2 linked regions of the Homo sapiens genome follow. The protein of the gene in region 1 interacts with the protein of each later gene in a biochemical or structural test. Each region holds a gene or a part of one and is shown on either strand. Other genes may lie near its edges. The genes, in order: SYT3 and IQSEC1.

Evidence for each region.
Region 2: the proteins of SYT3 (region 1) and IQSEC1 form a complex in vitro, tested with the Homo sapiens proteins (one study listed by BioGRID).

What each region holds. Positions count from the first base shown.
Region 1 is NC_000019.10:50,634,062-50,646,440, forward strand, and holds the start of SYT3 (synaptotagmin-3), read right to left. Parts: upstream 5,821-12,379; 5' UTR 5,729-5,820; intron 5,339-5,728; exon of another isoform or gene 5,102-5,338; 5' UTR 4,964-5,101; intron 3,885-4,963; exon of another isoform or gene 3,366-3,884; 5' UTR 3,351-3,365; coding exon 3,203-3,350; intron 1-3,202. UniProt on the Homo sapiens protein: Ca(2+) sensor involved in Ca(2+)-dependent exocytosis of secretory vesicles through Ca(2+) and phospholipid binding to the C2 domain.
Region 2 is NC_000003.12:12,927,152-12,939,605, reverse strand, and holds part of IQSEC1 (IQ motif and SEC7 domain-containing protein 1), read left to right. Parts: intron 1-2,908; coding exon 2,909-4,158; intron 4,159-12,454. UniProt on the Homo sapiens protein: Guanine nucleotide exchange factor for ARF1 and ARF6. Guanine nucleotide exchange factor activity is enhanced by lipid binding. Accelerates GTP binding by ARFs of all three classes.

The sequences.
Region 1 (12,379 bases):
TGCCACATATGTGCTGATATGCCTTGCAGAGAAACCCAAGTACAGAATTGTTCTTACAATCAAAGGTTTTAGGCTTCTTCAGTAATTGGTACCAGGAGTGGGGTTTTTCAGAAATGACCTTCAAGGAATGGGAATTTGTTTTGAAATGGACTTCTGGGTGTTGACAAAGTGAAAGACAGGGAAAATCCCTACTCCTGACAGACAGTGGGTTATGGTGGGGAAGCAGGTAGCTAGGCCATTGCCGGCAAGGACAGCTGAGTGGAATGGCTGTGTCCAGTTATATTAGGGGACACACAGCAGGAAGGGGTTGCCTTCTGGTCCTGTACTGCTTAGTGAAGCTACAGTGGTGTGTGACATTAATCCTTATGACATTATATAACTTTGGAATGACTTATCCCATTTTACAGATGAGAAAACAGGCTCTGAGAGAGAGGAAGTGGCCCTGCAGGGACATATACCAGGCACTGGCAGAAGAACTCTGGGTTTCCTTCCCCCCTCCCTCTTGGGGTGCTTTTTTTTTTTTTTTTTTTTTTTTTTTTTGAGGCAGAGTCTTGCTCTATCATCCAGGCTGGAGTGCAGTGGCATGATCTCGGTTCACTGAAGCCTCCACCTCCCAGGTTCAAGCACTTCCTGTGCCTGAGCCTCCTGAGTAGCTGGAACAACAAGTGGGCACCAGCATGCCTGGCTAATTTTTGTATTTTTGGAATAGACGGAGTTTTGTTATGTTGGCCAGGCTGGTCTTGAACTCCTGGCCTCAGATCCATCCACCTCGGCTTCCCAAAGTACTGGGATTACAGGCATGCACCACCATGCCTGGCCAGAGTGCTCCTTCTCTTTTTTTTTGAGACAGAGTCTCGCTGTGTCACCCAGGCTGGAGTGCAGTGATGTGATCTCTGCGGAGTGCAGTGGTGTGATCTTGGCTCACTGCAAGCTCCACCTCCTGGGTTGATGCCGTTCTCCTGCCTCAGCCTCCCAAGTAGCTGGGACTACAGGCGCCTGCCACCATGCCCAGCTAATTTTTTGTTTTTGTATTTTTAGTAGAGATAGGGTTTTACCATGGATGGTCTTGATCTCCTGACCTTGTGATCCGCCCACCTCAGCCTCCCAAAGTGCTGGGATTACAGGTGTGAGCCACCACACCTGGCCCAGAGTGCTCCTTTTTAAGTGACCAACACTCACTGAGCATTCTGGGTGGCCTGTTAGAAACCAGAGGCAAGGACTTTATGAGCCTCCTGAACACAGGTTGAGTTGAGAAAACAGGGTCATTGTGGAGAAAAATTAAACAGATGCTTTCCCCTACCGCCAGCCTGATTCAGACCCTGTCCAACTCAAAACATGAATCCCACAAACCCTGACAGATTCCCCATTCCTGTCTGCACAGACTGGGGAGTTATTTGGGCGTGGAGAGGTGGTGTAGTTGCGCAGTAGAAGATTCACCTTGCCCAGAGAAAGGTTTGGCCCTTGATCAGCTCCCGGGAGGGAACCTCTAAGCCCATGGAATGTCCTGCCTGATTAGAGTGTCTTTGTTTACCTGGGGCCTTGGATCATGTGGCATAGTCTATGTTAACACTGTGATATATGCTGGAGGCCTCCAGCTCAGCCTCTGGAGGAGCTGGAGACTAAAGTCAGCCACACCAGCAATCAGTCACGTATATGAGGCCGACCCCCAATAAAAACCCTGCCCACCAAGGCTCAGGTGAGCTTTCCTGGTTCGTAATAGACTGTGCATGCTGTCACATGTCGTTGCTGGGAAAATTAAGCACTGTCCATGTGACTCCACTGGGAGAGGATGACTGGAAGCTCACACCTGGTCTGTCCTGGACTCTGCCCTGGGTGCCTCTTCCCTTTGCTGACTTCAGTCTGTATCCTTTCACTGTCATAAACCATAACCATGAGTATAACAGTTTCCAGCCAGGCGTGGTGGCTCATGCCTGTAATCCCAGCACTTTGGGAGGCTGGGGCGGGTGGATCACTTGAGGTCAGGAGTTCGAGACCAGCCTGGCGAACAGGATGAAACCCTGTCTCTACTGAAAATACAAAAAATTAACTGGGCGTGGTGGCAGACGCCTGTAATCCTAGCTACTCTGGAGGCTGAGGCAGGAGAATCACTTGAACCTGGGAGGTGGAGGATGCAGTGAGCCGAGATCCCACCATTAATTACACTCCAGCCTGGGCAACAAGAGTGAAACTCCATCTCAAAAACAAACAGACAGACAAACAAAAACAGTTTCCTGAGTTCTGTGAGTCAATGATTCTAGCAAATCATTGAACCTGAGGGTGGTCATGGGCACCTCCAGACTACAGTGCTGTACTAGACTATGCAGGATTCAGTTCTGCCTCTGCTACCATTGAGCCTCTGGGCAAGTGACTGCTGCTCTCTCGGCCTTATCCCTCATGACTGTCACCTGGACATCCTGCACATGAGGTGCCAGACCCTGCCCTGGTGCTCAGCAAGTGTGACTGTGGTTGTAATCACTCAGCACATGCTTCCTCTGGTCACCGTTTCCTCATCTGGACAATGGCACTCATAATGTTTCCTCATTCCCAGAACCCTGCTGCTTTCTAGCTGTGTGACCTTGGACAGGTCACTTCACCCTTCTCAGCCTCAGTTTCCTCTGTTGAAAATGGGGATTATATGTTCCACAAAGGGTCACTGTGAGTAATCATTGAGATGTGCAGAGGACCTCGCATGCTGCCTGGACCACAGTTGGTGCTCAGTAAGTGAATCCCAGCATTGTTCTAAGTTCTTCGTAGGTGTTATATCATTTAAGTCTTTCATCTGCTCTATGAAGCATCCCTTTTATTATCCCCATTTTCCAGATGAGGAGACTGAGTCCCAGAAGAAGAGTCACTTACCTACAGCCATGCAGTTATTAATAAAGTGAGGGAGATGGGACTTGAACCCAAACAAGTCAGTCTGACTCAAGAGCCTGACATTTGCACAAGATGCAGAGAGATATCTGAAGGGGGCATTTGGTGGTGGTAGTCGGAGGGAGGCCCACAGGGCAAAACTCAAAAAGCAGACCACACAGCTCCTTCCCCTTGGATCAGAGATTTGGGAGAAGGGCAGCAGCAGGCAGAATGGGGGCAAGACGCTACGAGGGACTGACCCCACAAGCAATGGAAAGCTGAGCAGTTCTGCTCCGAGTCTCCTGGCCATAGTGCAAGCAGGGGGCTGGCCAAGACAGGCAGGGGTGCTGACCTGCATCTGGACCCCGGGGATAGCCTCGGATTCGGTCATTGAACTCCTGGCACCTGTCGTTGGTGTCAGCATCTCGGACCCGCGCACAGAGGTCCGAGACCAGGATGAGTGCCCGCCGGCAGAGGTCATCCTCGTAGTCTCCTGACATGGTGGCCGTCTGGTCCTGTGTGTGGGAGGGATGGGGCAAGGGTGCAGATGGGAAACAGAATGGGAGTGCAGGGTGGGCAGGTGTGGAGATAAGGGTGGAAAGAGACACCGAGAAAAGGAAGGATGGGCAAAGGGGACAGAGATTAGGGGCAGATGGATTAGGGATGGAGATTCGAGGAAGAAGGACAAGGTGACAGGTATTAGGGATGGACAAGGAAAAGGAATTAGGAGTAGACAGACAAGAGGGCAGAAATTAGGGATGGAGATAGTAGCAGGGACTGGGTAAGTCAAGGGGACAGAGATGGGCATGAGTGGAGTAGAGGACAGAGAACAGGGACAAATGAACAAGGAGGAAGAGATGGAGAAGGGCAGTGAAGGGGCTAAGAATGAGGATGCACAAATAAAGGGATGGACAGATGAGGAAACAAAGATTAGGGCTGCACAGATGAAGGAACAGGAGTTAGGGATGAGCAGACAAGGTGCCAGCCATTCATCATTCATTCATTCAACAAACATCCATCCAGCACCAACTACGCCCTACGTGCTGTGCTGGTTGCTGCGAATCCAGCAGAGAACAAGGTCCTGGAGTTCCCTGACCTCCCGGTGTCACAATCCAACGAGAGGAGACATAGAGTAAACAAGCAAACAAAAACACATACACAAACCGGTCACTGTCAGACTGTCTGTGAGAAGCGCTCCACAGGACACAGCTGGAGAATGTGTCACAAAGGAACTCAGAGGGGGGCGGTCAGGGAGGGCTCTCCCAAACCTGAAGGATGACATGGAGCCAGCCACAGGCGGGGGGCAGTGGCGCCAGGATGGGAAAAGCATTTTAAAGAAAAGCATTTTAGACAGTAGGAGCAGGATGACAGGGGCTTAGGGTAGGAAAGCAGTTGGAGGGTCCAGGGACCAAGGAGGCCAGACTGGGGTAGACGCGGGGAGGGCCAGGAGAGAAGGATGGATGTGGGTAGAGAGATTGGAGGTGGATAGGTATGGTGGGAGCTGGGGGTGGAGAGGTGGAGATGCAGAGATGGGGACCAAGTTGAGGGAGGGAGAGATACAGGGAGGGGAGACAGAGATAATGTGAAGGGCAGACTGAGGCTCCGAAGAGATGGAGAGGTGAACAGGCAGGCAGAAGGAAAGTCAAGGATTGAGACTTGGGATGGACAGTGACAAGGAATGAACCGAGATGTAATTAATTCACGGGGGCTTGAGAGACGAGAGGACGAGAGACGGTGAAGAGGGGCAGGCAGGAGTGTGGGCAGAAATATCTTTGAAAGAGAAACGGTCGAACGGGAGGATGGATGGGTGGGCAAGGACAGCAGATGATGGCTAGAGATCGCAGATAGACAAAAGGAGACAGGAGGGCTGGGCAGACAGACATGGGTTCATAAGGGAAGGTTCAATGAGCACATAAATGAGAGGAGGCTAGGAAGGAGAGGTGGATGTGGGGAGAGGGGGAATTAGTGACACATGGCTCGGAGCCAGGCATCAAGATGGGTTGAAGGGGATGCAGGGGAATTAGGAACAGACAGACCAGGGCTCACAGATGGACAGGTGTCGTGGGGGTGCTGCAGAAGGCCAGGACTCCAAGACAGGCATGGCCACACTCACCTGCGCTTATCTCTGCCGTGTCCTGGGTGGCAGCCGAGGCGGCGGCGGGCGGCAGCCCATGGGGGTTCTAGGGCGGACAAGGGGCTGTGGACCCGTTCCCACGCGCCGGGTAATGAGAGAGAATGTCTGATCTAGGGGCTGAGGCCGGGAGAAAAAGCTCAGCTTAACAGTCACATCTTGCCCTACTCGAGCCAGCTGCCCGACCCCAGGCGACCCACTGGGAGCCCGGCCACCCCCTCCCACCTCCGGGCCCCCAGCTCCCGTTGAGGGCTTAGAGACTACAATTCCCGGCAGGTCTCGCGCTCGCGCTGCTGCGGCTTCATAGACCCGGCGCTGCAGGATCTGCTGGGAGTTGAAGTCCTTAATGCCTCCGGGCTGCAGAGAGGATGGGATTTTTTTTTTTTTTTTAAGGTTTTGGGGGGTTAAGATGCTGGGGTCCCAAGACGCTTCAGGGGAGGGGAACGATGTCCGGGACTTCGAAAAGCCACGGAGCCCTAAGTCCTTAGGGGCCACGGAATGAGGAAACGATCCCCCCGCGCTGGGGATCGGTGGGCGAGGGGTGGGATACACCCAGGTGTTTCGGGACCCCCTTCCAGGGCCACGTGCCCCTCCCCCGGGGTGGCCAGAGAGCGCTGCAGCGCTCCCACTCCCCGGCCCGAGATCCACGCGCCTCTGCATCTACCCCGCCCCCATGCGCCGGGGCCGACCCCAGGGATTTGACTGGGGCTGGGGCTGTGGCAGGAGGAGGGGGAGGAGCGGACTCACCCGGAGCCGCCGCTGCCGCCGCTGCCGCCGCCGCCGCCGCCGCAGCCCCGCGCGCCAGCCGCGGTGCCGGCTCGGCTCCTCCCCTCGCCACTGTCGCAGGTCCGCGGCTCCTCCCCCTGCACCCCCTCCTTCCCCCACTCCGAACCCGCGGCAAGAAAGCCGAAATCACTTGGCCTCAGCAAGGAAGCAGGGAGATTGCCCGGGACTAAGGCAGCAGAGACCCAGTGGGTTTCCACACTGGGGACCCAGAGATCTAGGATCACGACGTGCTGCTTCTCCAGGGTCCGGGGGCCCAGTTCTCCGCCCCGCTATCTCACAGAGGTAGAAGTCCGGGGACCCCAGGCCCCTCTTCCCAGGAACCCAGGACTTCAGGCCCTCCAACCTGAGCCGCTCTGAAGGCCGGTGGTAGGAGCGGAAGCTGAGACTCAAAGGTACAGTGCCACAGCCAGGATAGAGGTACTAGCAGGGACCTGGGTTTGAATCCCACCTGGGCCAACTCCTGCCTGTGTGCGCCTCTTGCTCTGAGGCCCCGTTTCCTCATCAGCAAAATACACACCATAAACTTATTTCCTAAGGGATCCACAGTTTGAAAAACCGGTCAGTGTAGACAAAACATTGGTACCAACTAGGTACTTAATGAATATTTCTCAAAAGTAGTGAGTAACAGTTTCTGGTATATTAATAGCAGTTAATGGCAATTGTCATTTCCTATAAGTGGTGAAGTGCTAAGTGCTTTGAAAGCGTTTTCTCATTTAATTTTCACTTGGGTGCAATTATGACATTCCCATTTCACAGAGGAGACAACTGAGGCCCATGGAGGTTAAATCCCTTGGGTAAGGTCTAGATCAGGGGTGTCCAATCTTTTGGCTTCCCTGGACTGCATTGTTGTCTTGGGCTACACATAAAATACACTAACAGTAACAATAGCTGATGAGAAAAAAAAAATCACAAAAAAATCTCATAATGTTTTAAGAAAGTTTACAAATTTGTGTTGTGCCGCATTCAAAGCTGTCCTGTGCTGCATGCGGGCCTCAGGCCATGGGTTGGACAAGCTTGATCTAGATCTACATAGCCTGGAGAGGTGGCTCGGAGGCCCCCTCAGTGCTCTCAATCAGTGACATCCAAATAAATACAACCTCTAGGTAAAAATCAAAGGCTGGGCTGACACCTGTAAATCCCAACACTTTGGGAGGCTGAAGTGGGAGGATCCCTTGAAGCCAGGAGTTTGAGACTATCCTGGACAACGTAGGAGACTCCATCTCTACAAAACAAAAAAACCAAAAAACCAAAACAAAACCAAACTAGTGGGTGTGGTGGCGTGCACCTGTAGTCCCACCTACGCAGGAGGCTGAGGTGGGAGGATTGCTGGAGCCCAGGAATTTTTTTTTTTTTTTTTTTTTTTTTTTGTGAGACAGAGTCTTGCTCTGTCGCCCAGGCTGGAGTGTAGTGGCGCGATCTGGGCTCACTGAAAGCTCCGCCTCCCGGGTTCACTCCATTCTCCTGCCTCAGCCTCCTGAGTAGCTGGGACTACAGGCGCCTGCCACCGTGCCCGGCTAATTTTTTTTGTATTTTTAGTAAAGACGGGGTTTCACCGTGGTCTCGATCTCCTGACCTTGTGATCCACCCGCCTCGGCCTCCCAAAGTGCTGGGATTACAGACGTGAGCCACCGCGCCCGGCCTAGCCCAGGATTTTGAGGCTGCAGTGAGCTATGATTGCACCACTGCATTCCATCCAGCCTGGGCAACAAAGCAAGACCCCCATCTCAAGAATAAATAGCCAGGTGCGGTGGCTCATGCCTGTAATCCTAGCACTTTGGGAGGCCAAGTGGGCGGATCACTTGAGCTCAGGAGTTCAAGACCAGCCTGGGCAACATGGCAAAACCCTGTCTCTACAAAAAATACAAAAATTAGCTGGGTGTGGTGATGCATGCCTGTAGTCCTAGCTACTTGGGGGGCTGAGGCAGAAGGATCACTTGAACCCAGAAGGTGGAGGTTGCAGTCAGTGAGCCAAGATTGTGCCACTGGGCTCCAGCCTGGGCGACAGAGTGAGACCCTGTCTCAAAAATAAACATAAATATGAATAAATAAATAAATATTTAGAGCAAGAAATAAAAATGTCAAAATAAGTAAGTAAATAAAAGTAAAAATTGCTTGCTGCTTCTGCAAATACAACTTTAAGCACGCATCCTGGGCCCTCCCTCTAATTAGATTACACCCTACCCCTATTGCTGCCTATGTGTACATTTTGCAGCCATTATACTACCACAGAACCCCCAGAAATGCCTCCCAGGTTTGCCGAGTCTCTTCCTTGTGGCTTCTTGCATCCCCCCAGATGGATGTGTGTTTACATCCAGGGAAGCATGTGCGGGTGTAAACCTACAGACCACGAGTGCAGGTCCCCATGCCAACTCTAACAGCCCGACCCTTGAACCCTGCTGGGCCTGCCCAGGGTCCACAGGTAGCCCTGTTCCACAGGGAGAGACACGCAGTGATGCACACACTCAGAGATGGGCACACAGATGGGCTTGCCACGCTGCCATGACACGTTTCCAAAGAGACGCTCGGATTCCGAGGCTGCCCAGGCATTGAGAGGCAGCCGTAGTGCACTGGTTTTCTGTGTGACTTTGGGGGCAGAGCACTGGGATTCAAATCCCAGCTCTGCTCCCCTCTCTATGCAACCTTGGAGGGGTTACTTAGATTCTCCATGCCTCAGTTTCCCTCTCTGTAAGTGCAGATAATAATACTTTAAAAAATCATACTCTGGCTGGGTGCAGTGGCACATGCCTGTAATCCCAGCACTTTGGGAGGCCGAGGCTGGCAGATCACCTGAGGTCGGGAGTTTGAGACCAGCCTGACCAACATGGAGAAACCCCGTCTCTACTAAAAATACAAAAATTAGCCGGGCGTGGTGGCACATGCCTGTAATCTCAGCTACTTGGGAGGCTGAAGCAGGAGAATCACTTGAACCCAGGAGGCAGAGGCTGCAGTGAGCCAAGATCATGCCATTGCACTCCAGCCTGGGCAACAAGAGTGAAACTCTGTCTCAAAAAAAAGAAAGAAAGAAAAAATCATATTGTATCTCACTGGGTTATTTTGAGGGTTAAATTAAATTCATGGAAGGTGCTTAGGAAAAATGGCTAGTGTTTAGTGTTGTCATAAATAAAAATTAAATGCATTTGCTCATTTAAACTTTAGCTGGACTTGACAAGTGAGGAAATTGAGGCTCACCAAGGGAAGCGCTCTGCCCAAGATCACACATCTGGAAAGTGTGAGTGGAGATTAAAAACTGTATGGGTCTGGACCAAGTGCAGTGGCTCACACCTGTAATCCCAGCACTTTGGGAGGCCAAAGGTGAGAGGATCCTTTGAGCTCAGGAGTTGAGACTTGCCTGGACAACATAGTGAGACCTCATTTCTACAAAAAATACAAAATTTAGCCGGGCATGGTGGCACACACCTGTAGTCCCACCTGCTTGGGGGGAGGCTGAGGTGGGAGGATTGCTTGAGCCCCAGAAGTCGAGGCTGTGGGGAAATGGAGGCTGCCCAGAGTCCCGTCCTTGTGCCTTCTTGCATCCCCCCGGATGGATGTGCGTTTACATCCAGGCTGGAGTGCAGTGAGCCATGATCGTGCCACTGCACTCCAGCCTGGATGTCAGAGTGAGACCTTGTCTCAAAACACAAAAAGAAAAAACAAAAAACGGAGTGGATCTGAATCCAGAGCCCTTGCCTTTAGCCACCATGCTGTTTGCATCTAGGACCCATTTGAGGACTTGCATGCTACTGCTGCTAGGAGTATAGAACAATATAAAGAACACCGGACAGGGAGCCAGGAGACAGAGATAGAATCTTCCATATTCATTCAACTCGATTCATGCAGTCATTTGAGAAATACTTTCTGAGCACCTAATGTGTGCCAGGCATTTTTTTTTTTAGACAGCAGGGATTCATCTGGGAACAAAATAGACTAAAATTCCAGGGTTGGAAGAGCTCATGGTCTAGTGGAAGAGACAGAAAATAATCAAATAACTACACATACTAGGATCCTCATACTAGGATCAATGCTAGGAAGGAACATCCATTGTGCTGTGTGTTTGAGAGAGGTCAGAGAAGTTCCTGAGCAAGTGACTTTTCAGCTGAGCTCAGAAGGATGAGTAGGCATAAGCCAGGTGGTGAAGATGAGGGAGGGGAGGGGAAATGCTCCAGGGAGAAGGAACAGCTCATGTAAGACCTGGGGGCAGGAGGGAGTTTGGCACCTTGAGGGCTGTCAAGCACACAAGCCCCGTAGGAGTAGCACTTTGTTTTGTTCATAGCTGTGTCCCAGCTGCCTGGCACAGTACCTGGCGCATGGTAGGCACTCAATACTTATTGGTTGGTTGAATGAATGAATGAACATGTGAATGGATAAGTGGAGGAATGTGTGAATCTATGATGTATTGATGGATGGGTGCATGACTGGATAGATGCTGGAAGGATAGATGAAGGGATGGACAGATAGGTGGATGAGTGAATGGCTGGATGGATAAGATGGATGTTGGAGGAATAGATGAAGGAATGGATAGATGAAAGAGTGGATGGTTGGGTGCATACATGGATGATTGGATGGATAGATGAAGAGTTAGAGTGGGGATGGATAGATGGATACTGCAGAAATAGATGAAGGGATGGATGAGTGAATGGCTGGATGGATAGAGGATAGATTGGTGGATAGATGGATGGATGTTGGAGGAATAGATGAAGGGATGGATGAGTGGATGAGTGGATGAGTGGATAGTTGGATGGGATGGATGGAAGCTGCAGAAATAGACGAAGGGATGAATGAGTCAGTGGTTGAATGGATAGAAGATGGATGGATTTGTGGATGGGTGGATGGATGTTGGAGAAAAAGATGAAGGAATGGATGGATGAGTGGATGATAGGATGGATGGATGCTGCAGAAATAAATAAAGGGATGGATGAGTGGAGGGTTGGGTGGATGGATGGATGATTGGATGGGTAGATGGAGAATTAGATAAAGGATGGATGGATTTTGGAGAAATAGATGAAGGGAGGGATGAGTGGATGGCTAGGTGCAGGGATGGATGATTGGATGATTGGATAGATAGATGAAGAGTTAGATAGAGGATGGTTGGGTGGATGTTGGAGAAATAGATGAAGGGATGGATGGATGGGTGACTGATTGAATGAGTTTTCACAAATACCTACAGATTCACACACATATGTGCCTGGAGGTAGATGCAGATACACTCAGAGGCATGCACACATGTGTGTAAATACAGATTCACTTGTTCTCCTGGTGCTCCTCCTGGAGAGAGCAAACACTGAGAATGGGGAGGTGGGGAGACACACCTTTTGGCCAGGGCTATGGCCATCCCTGCCACCACTGCGGCGCTGACAGTATTTCTGGAATTGGAGGAAAACGCTGATTCAGGGGTGTGTGTTTTAGACTGGGCACCAGGCCAGGAAGTGGGACAGGGATGGCCCAGAGAGATGGATTGAGTGGCAGAGGGAAGTCGGTCGGAGTAAGGCAGAGAGACAGGCAAGGCGACAGAGAGGTGGAGACACACAGAAGCAGAGAGATGGGGAAATAGGCAAAGTCATGGAGGCAGAGACAGAGACATAGAGAGAAAGGGAAGGAAAGAGAGATGGAGACACAGAAACAGAGATGGGGAAATAGAGTGATGGAGACAGAGACAGATGTACAGAGAGAAAGACAGGGAGAGAAAGATGGAGATACAGAGACATACAGAAATCTACAGAGATGCAGACAGTGAGAGACAGAGATACAGGAATACAGAAACCTGTGATACAGGAATTCAAATTCAGACACACACTGTAGTCCCAGCACTTTGGGAGGCTGAGGCAGGCAGATAGCTTGAGCTCAAGAGTTCAAGACCAACCTGGACAACATGGTGAAATTTCAGCTTTACCAAAAAAATACAAAAATTAGCCAGGCGTGGTGTGTGCGCCTGTAGTTCCACCTACTTGGAAGGCTGAGGCGGGAAGATCGCTTGAGCCTAGAAGGTTGACGCTGCAGTGAGCTATGATTGTATCACTGCATTCCAGCCTGGGCCCTTGTCTCAAAAAAACCCCCCACGAAACCCAAACCCCCACAAAAATCAAATGCAGACACACAGAGAGAGATGAGGTAGGGTTCCAGAGACAGGTAGAGAGAAGGGAAGAAAGATAAAGACACAGAGAGCAAATGGAGGCACAGATAGATGGAGACATAGAGTCCCAAATCCCAGAGGGAAGAAGAGAGACACAGAGGAGCAGAGAGAGATGCAGAGGAGGAGGGACAGTGACATCCAGCCAAAGCTAGATGCAGAGTCAGAGGACTGGAAAGGAAATTACCTCCTTTTGGGTGCCTCCTTGGTGCCTGGCTCCGATTTGGGGGTGCTGCTGTACCTTGCTTCACTTAAGCACCAACAGCCCTTGAAGGTAGCATTGAGGAAGGCAAGAGATAAGGAAGACGAGGCTCAGAGAGGGGAAGACATTTGCCTGACATTGCACAGCCTGGGAGCAGCATTTGATGCTGGTCTGTTTGATGCCAGAGCCCATGTTCTCTTCTTCAACTTATGTTGGCTCGTGAAGACCAGGAGGGACAGGGCAGATGGGGTTAGGGGGCTACTGAGTGTGGGTCACAGAAATAGAG
Region 2 (12,454 bases), on another chromosome or scaffold:
TCCACTGAGCTTCCTGGAAAGCTCAGCAAAAGTGGGAATGGGACAGATTGCATGGGAATCACCAGATGAAAAAGTAGGGTGCCCGATTCCACGAGGAGTTTTAAGTCTGGATAACACAGAGTCCATTTTAGTGAAAGGAGCCCAAGGGCTAGTCTCCTGTGCTCTTCTGGCCCCTGACCCACTGTGCCCTCCAGTGGCTTTCTGTCCCTGAAGCAGGAAACTTGAGTGGGTTTCAGGTACTGTCCCTGTGTCATCAAGAAGTGACAGTTCTGCTTTGCTGAAGGGCATTCTTCCGGGTTCCTCTTCTGTACTGCTCAGAAGTTTCCCTTGAAGGGACAAGTGAGGGCCGGATGGGGGAGCCCTGGCCACGGGGTCGACTCCTCTATCCAGGAACCATGTGCCCTGGGGCAGCGGCTTCCCTCCGCTGAGCGTCTTCCCTCCGCTGAGTGTCTTGTCCTTGCTGAGAAGTGGGGTAGTGAAACCCCTCGGGAGAGCAGAAGCTGCTGTGAGGTGGCATGAGGGTATGGGGGTCCCCAGCACACATAGTAGATGAGCACATGTTAGTAGAATCTCATCCACTGGGTCCCGGGAAACTTTTCGACCGGGCCTGGCAATAGTTCCATCCCAGAAAGAAGAATGACCCACGGTAAGTTTGGGGACGAGGAAGAGTAGCCCCAGGTCCATGTGTGTCCCCCTGGGGGAGGAACTGCCAGGGGCTCTGGTGAACAAATGCAGAGCCCATTGCTGCCTTCCTGAAGTCCCTTCGCCCCCAACACACACAGGTTTGGGCAGGAGGTCTCAGGAAAACAGGGTGGCTGCGTGGTCTGCGAGGTCCGGAGCCAGCAGGTGAGAAGGCCCTGCGGGGAGCTCTAGGCCTGAGCTGGAGGTCCTCGTACTTGTGCCGCCCACAAAGTACAGTGAGGGAAGAAAGGCTTCCTAGATCCCAGCCTTGGGCCTCTTATGGGCCCCAGGGGCTTTCTAAGCTCCACTCACAACCCAAAAAATAGAAACTTTCTGCTTACAGTTGTGGAAGTGAGGTCATTTCTTGGATGGCGTTCAGTAACAGGGCGAGAGAGAAAACAGACTGTGGCCTGGGATTGGAAAAGTCATTTTGATCTGCTCCCCTCAAGCCCCCCCAGCTCTTCTCCTCCACCCAGCCTGCTGGGACCACCCAGAGCCAGGCAGCACGCATGGGCATGCAAGGCCCTGCGTGGCCCTGAGCCAGTCTCCCTGGTGCAGGCCACAGCCTTCGATTTGCTGGACGTCTGTTTGGCATTATTTCAGTTCTGCGCCTGCAGCTGCCTGCTCTCCTTGACAGACCCCTCGCTCCTCGAGGGCAAGGACCTCCATGCCTCCCATTCCACCTCCAGGTGTGATGTGATGCCCAGCATGTAGTGGCATCTGGGACCATACAGGCAGGTGCAACGCTTTGCCTGGCTCCTAGCCCCACATCACATGCCCACGCCACCCCAGCACCCCAAGAGGCCTGGCTTGGCGGAGAAGCCAATTCCTTATCTTGGCCGCAGGAGTGTGTTCATTGTCCACTCAGGAGCAAGGTGCAGGGAGTGGCCCTCAGGACCGTCCTTGGTCACGGGTGCCTCAGGAATTCGGGAGGTCTGTGTGTCCCGCTGAAGCACCCAGGGTTCACCCCGCCCTCTCCCTGCATGTAGCTCACCCCTCACAGGAACGAGCTGTGTAGGCCAGACGAGCCATCTAGGAATGGCGGTGCTCATGAGGGAAAGCCAGCTCCAGAGCCTGAAGGCCTCTTGAGTATGTGTTGAGTCTCTTCTCTGGGCCACAATTTGCCCATCTGTAGAGCAAGGGAGCTTGGGGGCTTTACGAACTGTAAATCCCTTCCCAGAATGCAGCTGAGGGTCTTTCCAGCCCAGCTGCCCCCGTGCTTGGCATGTGCCAGCCCTTGGCCTCTGTCTCCCAGGCTCACCACAGTCATAGGAGGCAGGTCCCAGCACTACCCCATTTAATAGATGAGGAAACCGAGGAACTGCATGGGCTCAGTGCTTACTCTGGGTCACCCAGCTACCAAGGGGCATAGCCTGGATTAGAACTCAGGCACCTGGCCTCAAAGCCTGCTTCTCAGTGCAGCAAACCCCACAGGTCTCCCTGAAGCTCAGTGACCCATCTGGCCACAAGAGCTGCCTGGTTGATGCTGTGGAAAGGAAATGAGTCCAGAAGCCTGTGGGCCTTGCTGGGATCTTTAGCCTATCTCTTGAACTGTGCATACTTCTTCCAGGGTCTCCAAATGGGTTTCGTTAGATGGCATACCTCAAGATGCACCAGGGCCAGGGGCTTCTGTGACCCAAGACACTGGGGACACTCAACATAGTGTATCTCACTGCCTTTTAAAGTTTCTGAGGCCCTGCATGGTGGCTCACGCCTGTAATCCCAGCACTTTGGGAGGGCGAGGCGGGTGGATCACCTGAGGTCAGGAGTTCAAGACCAGCCTGGCCAACATGGTGAAACCCCATCTCTACTAAAAATACAAAAATTAGCTGGGCGTGGTGGTGGGTGTCTGTAATCCCAGCTACTCGGGAGGTTGAGGCAGGAGGATCGTCTGAACCCAGGAGGCGGAGGTTGCAGTGAACCGAGATTGTGCCATTGCACTCCAGCCTAGGTGACAGAGCGAGATTCTGTCTCAAAAAAAAAAAAAAGAGGTCTGAGAGAGGAAAAACATGGTTGCACTCATTTTAACTTGGTGCTTCTCTGTCCAGTTTGACCTTGGGACTCATATTTTGCATAAGCCCACCAGCATCCCTCAGCAGTTGCTTTGACCAACTTTGGGACCTTCCCAGGTCGCACAGCCACGTGGCTAGGAAGTGGGAAGGAGTTTGGTAAATGTCGCACTGTGCCTACATGCAGTGCTGTTCTCATTCTCCTCTCCCACCCGCAGGTGGAGATGCTAGAACGAAAGTATGGGGGGCGCCTGGTAACCCGCCATGCGGCCCGCACCATCCAGACGGCGTTTCGCCAGTACCAGATGAACAAGAACTTCGAGCGCTTGCGCAGCTCCATGTCAGAGAACCGCATGTCACGCCGGATTGTGCTGTCCAACATGAGGATGCAGTTCTCCTTTGAGGGGCCTGAGAAAGTGCACAGCTCCTACTTCGAGGGGAAGCAGGTCTCAGTGACTAACGACGGCTCCCAGCTGGGAGCCCTGGTGTCCCCTGAGTGTGGTGACCTCAGCGAGCCCACCACCCTCAAGTCTCCGGCCCCCTCCAGTGACTTTGCGGACGCCATCACCGAGCTGGAGGACGCCTTCTCTAGGCAAGTGAAATCACTGGCCGAGTCCATCGACGATGCCCTCAACTGCCGCAGCCTGCACACTGAGGAGGCACCGGCCCTGGATGCGGCGCGGGCCCGGGACACCGAACCCCAGACAGCCCTGCACGGCATGGACCACCGCAAACTGGACGAGATGACGGCCTCGTACAGTGATGTCACCCTGTACATCGATGAGGAGGAGCTGTCGCCCCCTCTGCCCCTCTCGCAGGCAGGGGACCGGCCGTCCAGCACCGAGTCGGACCTGCGGCTACGGGCTGGGGGCGCAGCCCCAGACTACTGGGCCCTGGCCCACAAAGAGGACAAGGCTGACACGGACACGAGCTGCCGGAGCACGCCGTCGCTGGAGCGGCAGGAGCAGCGGCTGCGGGTGGAGCATCTGCCGCTGCTCACCATCGAGCCACCCAGCGACAGCTCTGTGGACCTTAGTGACCGCTCGGAGCGGGGGTCACTCAAGAGGCAGAGTGCTTACGAGCGCAGCCTTGGCGGGCAGCAGGGCAGTCCCAAGCATGGTCCCCACAGCGGCGCCCCCAAGAGCCTCCCCCGGGAGGAGCCTGAGTTGCGGCCCCGGCCCCCCAGGCCCCTGGACAGCCACTTGGCCATCAATGGCTCAGCCAACCGGCAGAGCAAGTCTGAGTCGGACTACTCAGACGGTGACAATGACAGCATCAACAGCACGTCCAACTCCAACGATACCATCAACTGCAGCTCCGAGTCATCGTCCCGTGACAGCCTGCGGGAGCAGACGCTCAGCAAGCAGACCTACCACAAGGAGGCCCGCAACAGCTGGGACTCGCCTGCCTTTAGCAACGATGTCATCCGCAAGAGGCACTACCGCATCGGCCTGAACCTCTTCAACAAGTGAGTACCATGGGTGACCCCTCAGGGTGGGCAGCTGTGGCTTGCTGGGCCTTGGCGGGTGGGCGTGGCTGCATCCTTCCAAGCACGGAGCTTGAGGTCCACCGTGGCCTATGAGCATAGGAAGCTGCCACACAAGGTCGGTGGCTAGGACGGTGCCAGCCTGTGCGCTGAGGCCTAGCCCCTCCTGGGACTGCTGGTGGGGATGGCAACACACACAGGCTGAGCAGGGGCAGAATGGGAGCTTTCTGTGCCGAAGCAACTTGAGTCCCGGGCCCTTCCGTCCCATCCCCCCCAAGTCCGCCATAGCAAGTGGGGTATGTTGGGCCATGCCCTGCGCAACTTTGGATGTCAGGCCTAGGGGTGATGTGGGACACAAAGGCCTTTGAGCAGGGGTATGACCGGTTGTGTCAGTGGGGGGCAGGGGCAGACAGGCGAGACCCAGGGCTGTGTCTTGTGGGGGATGCAGGCCAGACCTGAGGCCATGTCTGGGGGTAGGAGTGCTCAGGGGCAGTTGCTGGCCAGACCCAGAACCGTGTCCTGGATGGAAGGAACTCAGACAGATGCAGGCCAGACCCAGGGCTGTGTCTGGGGGTCTTGGGGAGATGCATGAGTTGGGTTCATGGAGTAGCTGCTCCCCAAGGGGGTCCTGGAAAGGTGCCGTTGACCATCCTGAGAGCAGATCCAAGGAGCGATGGGTATTTAAAGCAGACTATTCTTAGCACAGCCAAAAATAGCAAGAGGAAGGGGAGGAGGGCTGAGCACTTGGCCTGGGGAACGTGCAGGCTCCTGTCCAACCTGAGATTTCTCGTTATTTCCACTCCCTGGGCTACTGGGATTTGGCCTCATCAGATGCTGGCCTGGCACCAACTCCCCTGGGCTGGTGGTTCCTGACACACATCCGGGGAGCCAGGGGCAGACGACAGTTTTCCCAGGAGGTCAAACTAGGGTGATGAATGGCGCAGTGGGACCTGGCCACCTCAAAGCCAGTGCCTGAGCTGGCTCCCTGCTCCGTCTGCCCCCTGTTCTCTCTTCTTCTAGACTGGGGGAGATGGTGCTTTTGAGCCATTCCTGGGACACATGGAAGCACTATCTTGGGATGTCAGAGAGGCCTGTCTCAGGAAGAGCCTCTGGGGAATGGTGCATTCACTTGGGGCCAGTAAGGGGCAATGGCTTACTGGTTTGCTCAGCTAAGAACAAAGAGTCTTGGACATCTCACATCTACCAGGATGCTCTCTCCTGAGCCTGTGATCTGCCTGTGGCTTGCTGCAGAGTACGGCTGCTCTCACTGCTGCACAGGCCACGGCCGGAGCAATGCGCTGGACAGGGGAGGGTTGCATCCTGCTGGCCCACCTGACACGGTCCCTGAAGTCTGTCCCCACTGCTCCTGGGCACAGCCGAGCTCCAGGATCATCTCTCGACCCAGGCCCATGTGCCCTAGAGGGGAGGCTGGGATAACCAGGGGTCCCTGCAGAGTGGACAGGTGGAGGCCAGCAGTGGGGAGACAGGAAACCAGGAAAAACCACCTCCCTCAACCAGCCAGCTTTGGTCTGTGTAGATTCTTTCTTATTCAGTTAACTTTTAATTATCTGTGTAGCACGTGAATACATTCTTCACAGAAAATGCATGCCTTGCAGCTCAGGATAACATCCTCTTGGACTCAGCATGTTGCAGTCTCTCCTTCCAGATTTTTTTCCTGTGCATTTGTGTGCACTTCTAGGAACTCTAGACAGCCATGGTTAAGAACACAGCTTGGGGCTTGCTTGCCTGGCTTTAAATCCTGGCTGTGCCCCATCGTATCTCTATGTCCTTGGGCAGCATAACCCCCCGTCCCACAGTGGCCGCATCTGTGAAATGGCTGATGCCAGGGGCACCCTCCTCCCAGGGCGGTGAGGGTAAAGCGTTGGTCTGTGTGAAGTGCTGAAAGCAGGACGTGGCACAGGATAGGGCCTTACTATGTATTAGCTGCTACTGTTGGATCCTTGCTGACATCACTCAGGGCGCGGGACTGTGACATTGTCTTATGAGGGTATCGCTGGGCTCTACACACAGGCTGTCTTGCTCCTGTGTGCTGCTGAGTGGTAGTCCCCGCCGTGGCTATAGGTTATTTGGCCAGTTGCTTCTAGCTTTTCATAACTAGCACTAGTGTGACAGTGGTTGTGATCCTTACACACACACCTGGCAGGCCTCTAGATCATATGGCTGGAAGTGGAATTGCTGGGTCTTAGCTAGGCACGTTTTTAGTTGAAGGAGGAACTGCCCTTTCCCTTCCCTTTCTTTGGCCCTGCGCCTGTGTACCACCTCCACTTCTCTCCCTGCGGGGTGGTATGTCCCGGCCTTTGCCCGGCCTCCAGCACAGCTCTCAGTTCCCACCCCTTCCTAGCAACGAAGCAGTGAGCGTTCCTGGCACAGGCCTCTGTCTGGGGGGACGCCCCCTTTAAGGGAATCATGTACCAAAGTGGGAGAGCCAGCAGCAAGCGGGGAGGAAGAACAGAAACGAAGCCTGAGAAAGTGGTGTAGGTTGGTGGGGAGGGCATCCCGGGGGCTGCCGAGGTCTACCAGGCCTCCAGATGTTCCTCTGGGCATCTGCCGCTTACTCCCAGCTGGCCCAGCTGACAGCCACACAGCTGATCTGGCTGGCGGTGCTGCGGGAGGGCAGGGGTGCAGGAGCCAGAGGCAGGAGGGTTTCAGTCCTGGATCTGCCACCTATCAGCTGTGGGACCTGGGGCAACTCCCTGAACTCTCTGAGCCTCACTGCCTGCACCCGGAACATGTTTGTGCAGTGGATGGCAGCTGTTGTGGTCAGCAAGGGCTTCTGTGTCCAGAGTGCCAAGGGAAGGGAGCTTCCAGGGCTGGGCTTTAGGAAGACCCAAACAGGCATTGTGATGGGCCAAGCAGTCAGAAATAACGAGAATAGCTAATCCTTCCATGTGCTGACGGTGCGCCAGGCATGGTTCCCAGGGCCTGTCACGCGCTAACGCACGTTACCCTGTGCAGTGGGTGAGCTGAGTCTCACATAGTTGGTAGACGACTAGGGACGTCACACCCTGGCCACTTGGCTCCTGAACACATCCTCTTAAAATCCATGATGTAGGAACTGCTACCACAGGTATCCCTGGGCTCCCTACCTCCTCACTGGGTGACAGATCTGTAAACTGAGTCCAGGAGGCAGAGCCACACCATCTGTGGGACGCCATGCAGCCCTGCAGCACATGGAGCTGGGGCAGGTGCCCAGCAGGGACCTCACTGAGTCTGTCACCTCCGCATTGGAACCCCACCCCAGCGTCTCCTGCTCCTGTACCTGGTACACACCGTCAGGGGTACATGCCTGGCTATGTCCACTTTCTGTCTGTCACATTCCTCCCTGGAATGAGCCCAGGTGACCATGTCACAGGTGAGCCACACCAGACCTCTCCCACCTCTGCAAGAGCATCCTTGGCCCCAGAGCTGCTTCATGATGACACGGGCACCCTCAAAAAGGAGTGAGAAGCTTGTCTCTGAGAAACATGTACGCAGGGCTTGGGTGGCCACCTGGTGTGACAGTGTGGTTGGACTACTTGGCTAAGAGCTTTCCACAGGGGCCTCTGAGGCCCTTCCAGCACAGGGCCCTGTACCTGGAGGCAGCCCCCTTCTGTGGACCTGGCCTCCCCTACACTCGGCGCCCAGCCCCTGGGGCCCAGCAGCCTCGGGTCCCATCCACCTGCTGGAGCTACTGCAGAAGGGAGGCAGGGGATGCTGTCACTGGGATCCTGCAGGGAGCGTGGCTGTTTCACCCTTCCAGCGCCCCCAGGGGGCCATTCCCCTCCACCTGTGGGAACAGGGCTCAGAGAGTACCCCTGATCTGCATGCTCCAGCTCTGTGCTCCTTGTGTTTAACGTGTCTGCTGTCATTGATAAAAATAGCAGTGAGCAGAGCCGGCCTGTGCAGAGCCTGGACCAAGCGCCAGGCCCCATGCCGAACACCTTCCGCCTATTGTCTCACTGATTCGCCACAGCCATCCTGGGAAGCGTAGGTGCAGGCAGCGAGGCTGAGAGCCCAGGCCCAAGCTCAAGGCCACACACCAGAAGTGCTGGGCCCAGAGGATGTGCAGTGCTGCTCCCGTAGCCTGTGGTGCTGATGATGGAAAGGATGGGCTCTCTTAGGAGCACTTTGAGCTGGGTCTTTGGAGGTTGGGACCCCTCTCCCCTAGACACAGGCCACTGTGGCCTGTGGCCCTTGATGCTACCCGCAGCCCAGGATCCCGAGCCCTGGCCTGGGTCTGAGGTGGCTGGTGCTGAGTCTTGGAGAAGAAGACAGTGCCAAGGGAAGCCCTGCAGGGGGTGCTTGCCACACTTCAGAGGGTGATTCTCCTGCCTTCTCTCTGGGATCAATACCAGGGAAGCCACTTGGGTTCACGCTACCAGAAAGTGCGTGTAAAAGTCAGAGCTGGTGGAGCAGGCAGCCTCCGGAGGTGGCGAGCTTGCTGGCCCTGGCAGTGTGGGAAAGGCTGGAAGTGGCACCTCTCTGCAGGACCCTAGGTTGCTGCATTGGAAGGGCATTTTCAGGTGTGCAGGGACTCTCCGAATGCTGAAGTTGGTGAGTCTATCCTCACCCCCACAAGCAGTTAACAGTTACCAGGGCTCAGACCTCTGACCACGGAGATCCTCGGGCACTCCAAACCCTGTGTTGGTCTCTGCGTTAATCATGGCCTTCTCTGTTGCATGTGACAGGAACTCTATCAAACTGGGTTAAGCAAAGAGGCTTTACTGGTTCACGGACCTGAAAAGTCCCGGGTATTTCTTGGCTCCATCTGGCTTAGGGTTGGCCCTGCCCCTTGCCAGATCCTCCCTGACCCAGGGCAGGAGGGCCATCAGAGAACCCCAGGCCTGTAGTCTGACCTCAAGGCAACCCCAGTAGGAGGAAGAGAGATTCTCCTCCCCTCATCGGCTCCTTCTGGCTCTTGTGCCTCTCCCTGAACCACTTGGGCAAGCAGGATGCAGGGCTCTGACTGGCCTGGAGCAGAGAGTAGAATCTGCCCACTAGGTCTTAGGGCCTGAGCTGGAGGGTAGGCTGGGAAACCTGGGGGCTGAAGCTAGGTGCTTGGGCATCCATCCACTTCCACATCTCTTAGGCATCCTGAACAGTTAAAAAGGACTGGAGCCAAGCACAATGGCACATGCCTGTGGTCCCAGCTGCTTGGGAGGCTGAGGCGGGAGGATCACTTGAAACTAGGAGTTTGAGGCCAGTCTAGACAACATAGTGAGACCTGGGTCTTAAAAGAGAGAGAGAGAACCCTTTCCTGGATCCTGCACACCCCTGCTGGGAAAATACCAGGGTAAGCACTCAGTGCTTTGCTCCAGCAGGTAGGTGTTCCCCACGTGCAATCCACAGCCTTGCAGCAGCTCTTCCTCAGAGCCTCACACAGCTCACTCTTCCCACCAGCAGCTCAGCTTGCCGCTGAAAGACGATGAGAGATGCGTGTGCAGGAAGTGACTGGTGCAGTCTGTGCTTACCTGTCACACTTGAATCTGAATCGTCATCTGATGTGAGGAAAAGCTGGCTCAGCCAGCTTTAGAGGAGGCAGCTAAGGCCAGACCTGGGAGCACACAGCAGGGATGGAGCCAGGAGGCTCCGACTACACTGCCTGCTGGGGCATTTTAGGGGGCAGCAGGGCCGGGGGTACAGAGGTGGGTCAGGTATAGATGATGAGAATGTTGCAGGCAGCACCTGTTAATGCTGGGTCCTTACAGGGTGGAATCAAGAAGAGCTAAAGAAAGAGTAACGGGTATACACAAAGGGACTGTGGGAATGGGGTGACTGCAGAGTTGGACGGAGTGGATTTTCAGCAGCAGGAAGGGCATCCGGAGGGTAGAGGGAATTTTTAGGGACTTCTGGGGCAGAAGCGTGGATTATAAGTCCTGGTACCCATCATCTTGCTGGGCAACCTGGAGCCAGTTTTTTGACCCTTCTGTGCCCCCATTTTGTTACCTGTCAAGGCTTTTGCATTGGCTGTTCCCTCCACCAGGGACCTTCTTCCTGGCTCTCTGCCCAGGCTCAATGCCATCTCGTCAGGGTGGGCTTTCCTGCCCGTCCTTCTGCCCCTTCCAGCTGAAGTCGATGCCGTCCCAGCTTTCTGTGGCATCACCCCGGGTGAGTTCTTCTAGCCCAGGCCTCTCCTTCCAGCTGTGAAGCCTGAAATGGTTTCTGAGGCCTGAGGCATGGTACGTTATGAGTACGAACTCATGGATTCTTCACAGTAACCATTGTGTGAACTGCTGTCATCCCCATTATACAGACACACAGAAAGGCTAAGTTCACTCACCCTGGGTCGCCCAGCCAGAAGTGGAGCTGAGACGGAAGTGTGGGCTTCTGACTCTCCCAGCCATGCCCCTGATGCTTGTACTGTAGCATATTTCTGTATTCTTGGACTTTATCTCCGTCTGTATCCCTCTCTAACTAGAAAGCATGTTTTTTGACGATGGGGACCATAACTGTGCTAGCATAGCACCTAGCCAGGGTAGGTGCCCAATAAATGTTTGTGGAATGAATGAAGGAGGTGGGTGTCCATAGGGGACCGCACAGCTTCCCCCTTGAAGTGACACAGACCCCTCAGCTCACAGTTCAGTGGCTGAAGCATGTCCTGCAGCCCTCTCCCCAGGGCAGGCGGGAAAGTAAAGTCCTGCCAGGAGAGGAGGTGGTGGGGGTCCAAGGCCACACCAAAGGCCCACCTTCGACCTGTGTGATGCTTGGCAGACCTTGTGGAACTCTGTGAGGCAGGGCACAGGTGGATGGAGAATTCACCACCCAGCAGGGCCACCAAGGACTGATTGGGGAAGGAAGGGCTTCATTACACGGGCTAGGAGTAGGGGAGGGTAGCAAGGTCCCAATGGCAGGGGATTCCCACCAGTAAATGCCCAGTGCCCTGGCCGTCTGCTGTCAGGGAGGCTGTTGAGGGCCTGTCACTCCTGCAGGGAGCTTTGCGGAGACTCCCAGCCCCACCCTGGAGCCGGCCCTGGCTGTCCAGCTGCAGCTTCTCCCTAGTTCCCCTCAGGTCAGCAGCGAGCTCTTCATCACCGGCCTAGGCCCCCTCACTGAGCATCCTCACTTCTGCGGTATGGCCCTTGAGGCCTGCCGGGTGGAATCCATCGCCCGCACTAGGTTCAGGCTAAAAGCTGACGCCATCCTGGACTCACTGCTCCTTGTCCTTCTTGCTCCTACCTCCACCGCCCCCACCTCGGCCACCCCCACCCAGATCCATCAGCAAATATTGACACCTCTGCCCTCAGACTGTGTCCTCAACCCGGCCCCCTCCCACCTCTGCTGCAGCATGGCCAGGTGCCCACAGGAGCCCCTCACTCAGCTGCCAGCTGGGCCCTGGCCCACGATCTCCCCAGCATGGCATCGCTCTTGTGGACTTAGGACCCCATCACCACCCTCTTGACCTCACACTGGGGCTTCTCAGCCCACTCGGGAGAAAGCCAGACCCCTCTCCATGGCCTGCTGTACAGTGCAGTCTGCCCACCGCCCCACTACCCCCTTCGCCTTCCCCCAGGGTCCCTGTGCTCAACCCTGGAATAGCCTCTCAGGTCTCCCCACCCACCTCAGCACCTTTGTCCTCACTGTCACCTCTTCCCAGAAAATTGCCTGATACCTCAGTCTCTGTCCCTTGCCCCCTGCACAGACTAGGCCTCTCAGCTGCACCCGCAGGGGCCCACGGCCTACTCCCAGCCAGTGTTCACCAAGAGGTGCCTGGCCCAGCAGACACATGGTGCTCACCTAATCCTGAAGAGCCCACGTGCCCGCTTCCCACAGCACCTTCCCCTCTTCCCTCTGTGCTCTGAGCACCTCCAGGGCCGAGGAGCCTTGTCCTGGAAGTCCCTGGATGTGGCACATCCACATCAGAGGGTGGATGGGGGCAAAAAAAGAGCAGCGGCAGAAGGCGGGACCCGGCTGGGCCTGGACCTGGTCACTGCAGCGGTGGCCTGGAGGGACCAGACAGCCTGGGTGGAGTTAGAGCATGCACCTATGTGGGGAAGGGACCAGACAGCCTGGGTGGAGTTAGAGCATGCACCTGTGTGGGGAAGGGACCAGGCAGCAGGGGTCGGGGAGCCTAGCCCGGCTCCCCCACTCACTGCCGTGGAGGCCAGGGAGCATAGGCCCAGGGACGCCAGAAGGTCTGATTTTTCAGAAGCCAGAAATCCAGATTTTTTGTGCACTCTTCCAGTTTTTAAATACTGGCAACGAACTAGAATTCTTTTTGTTAACAGTGTGTGGGCCAAAGAAAACCCAACTGTAGGTGAGCCATGGCGACCCCTCACCT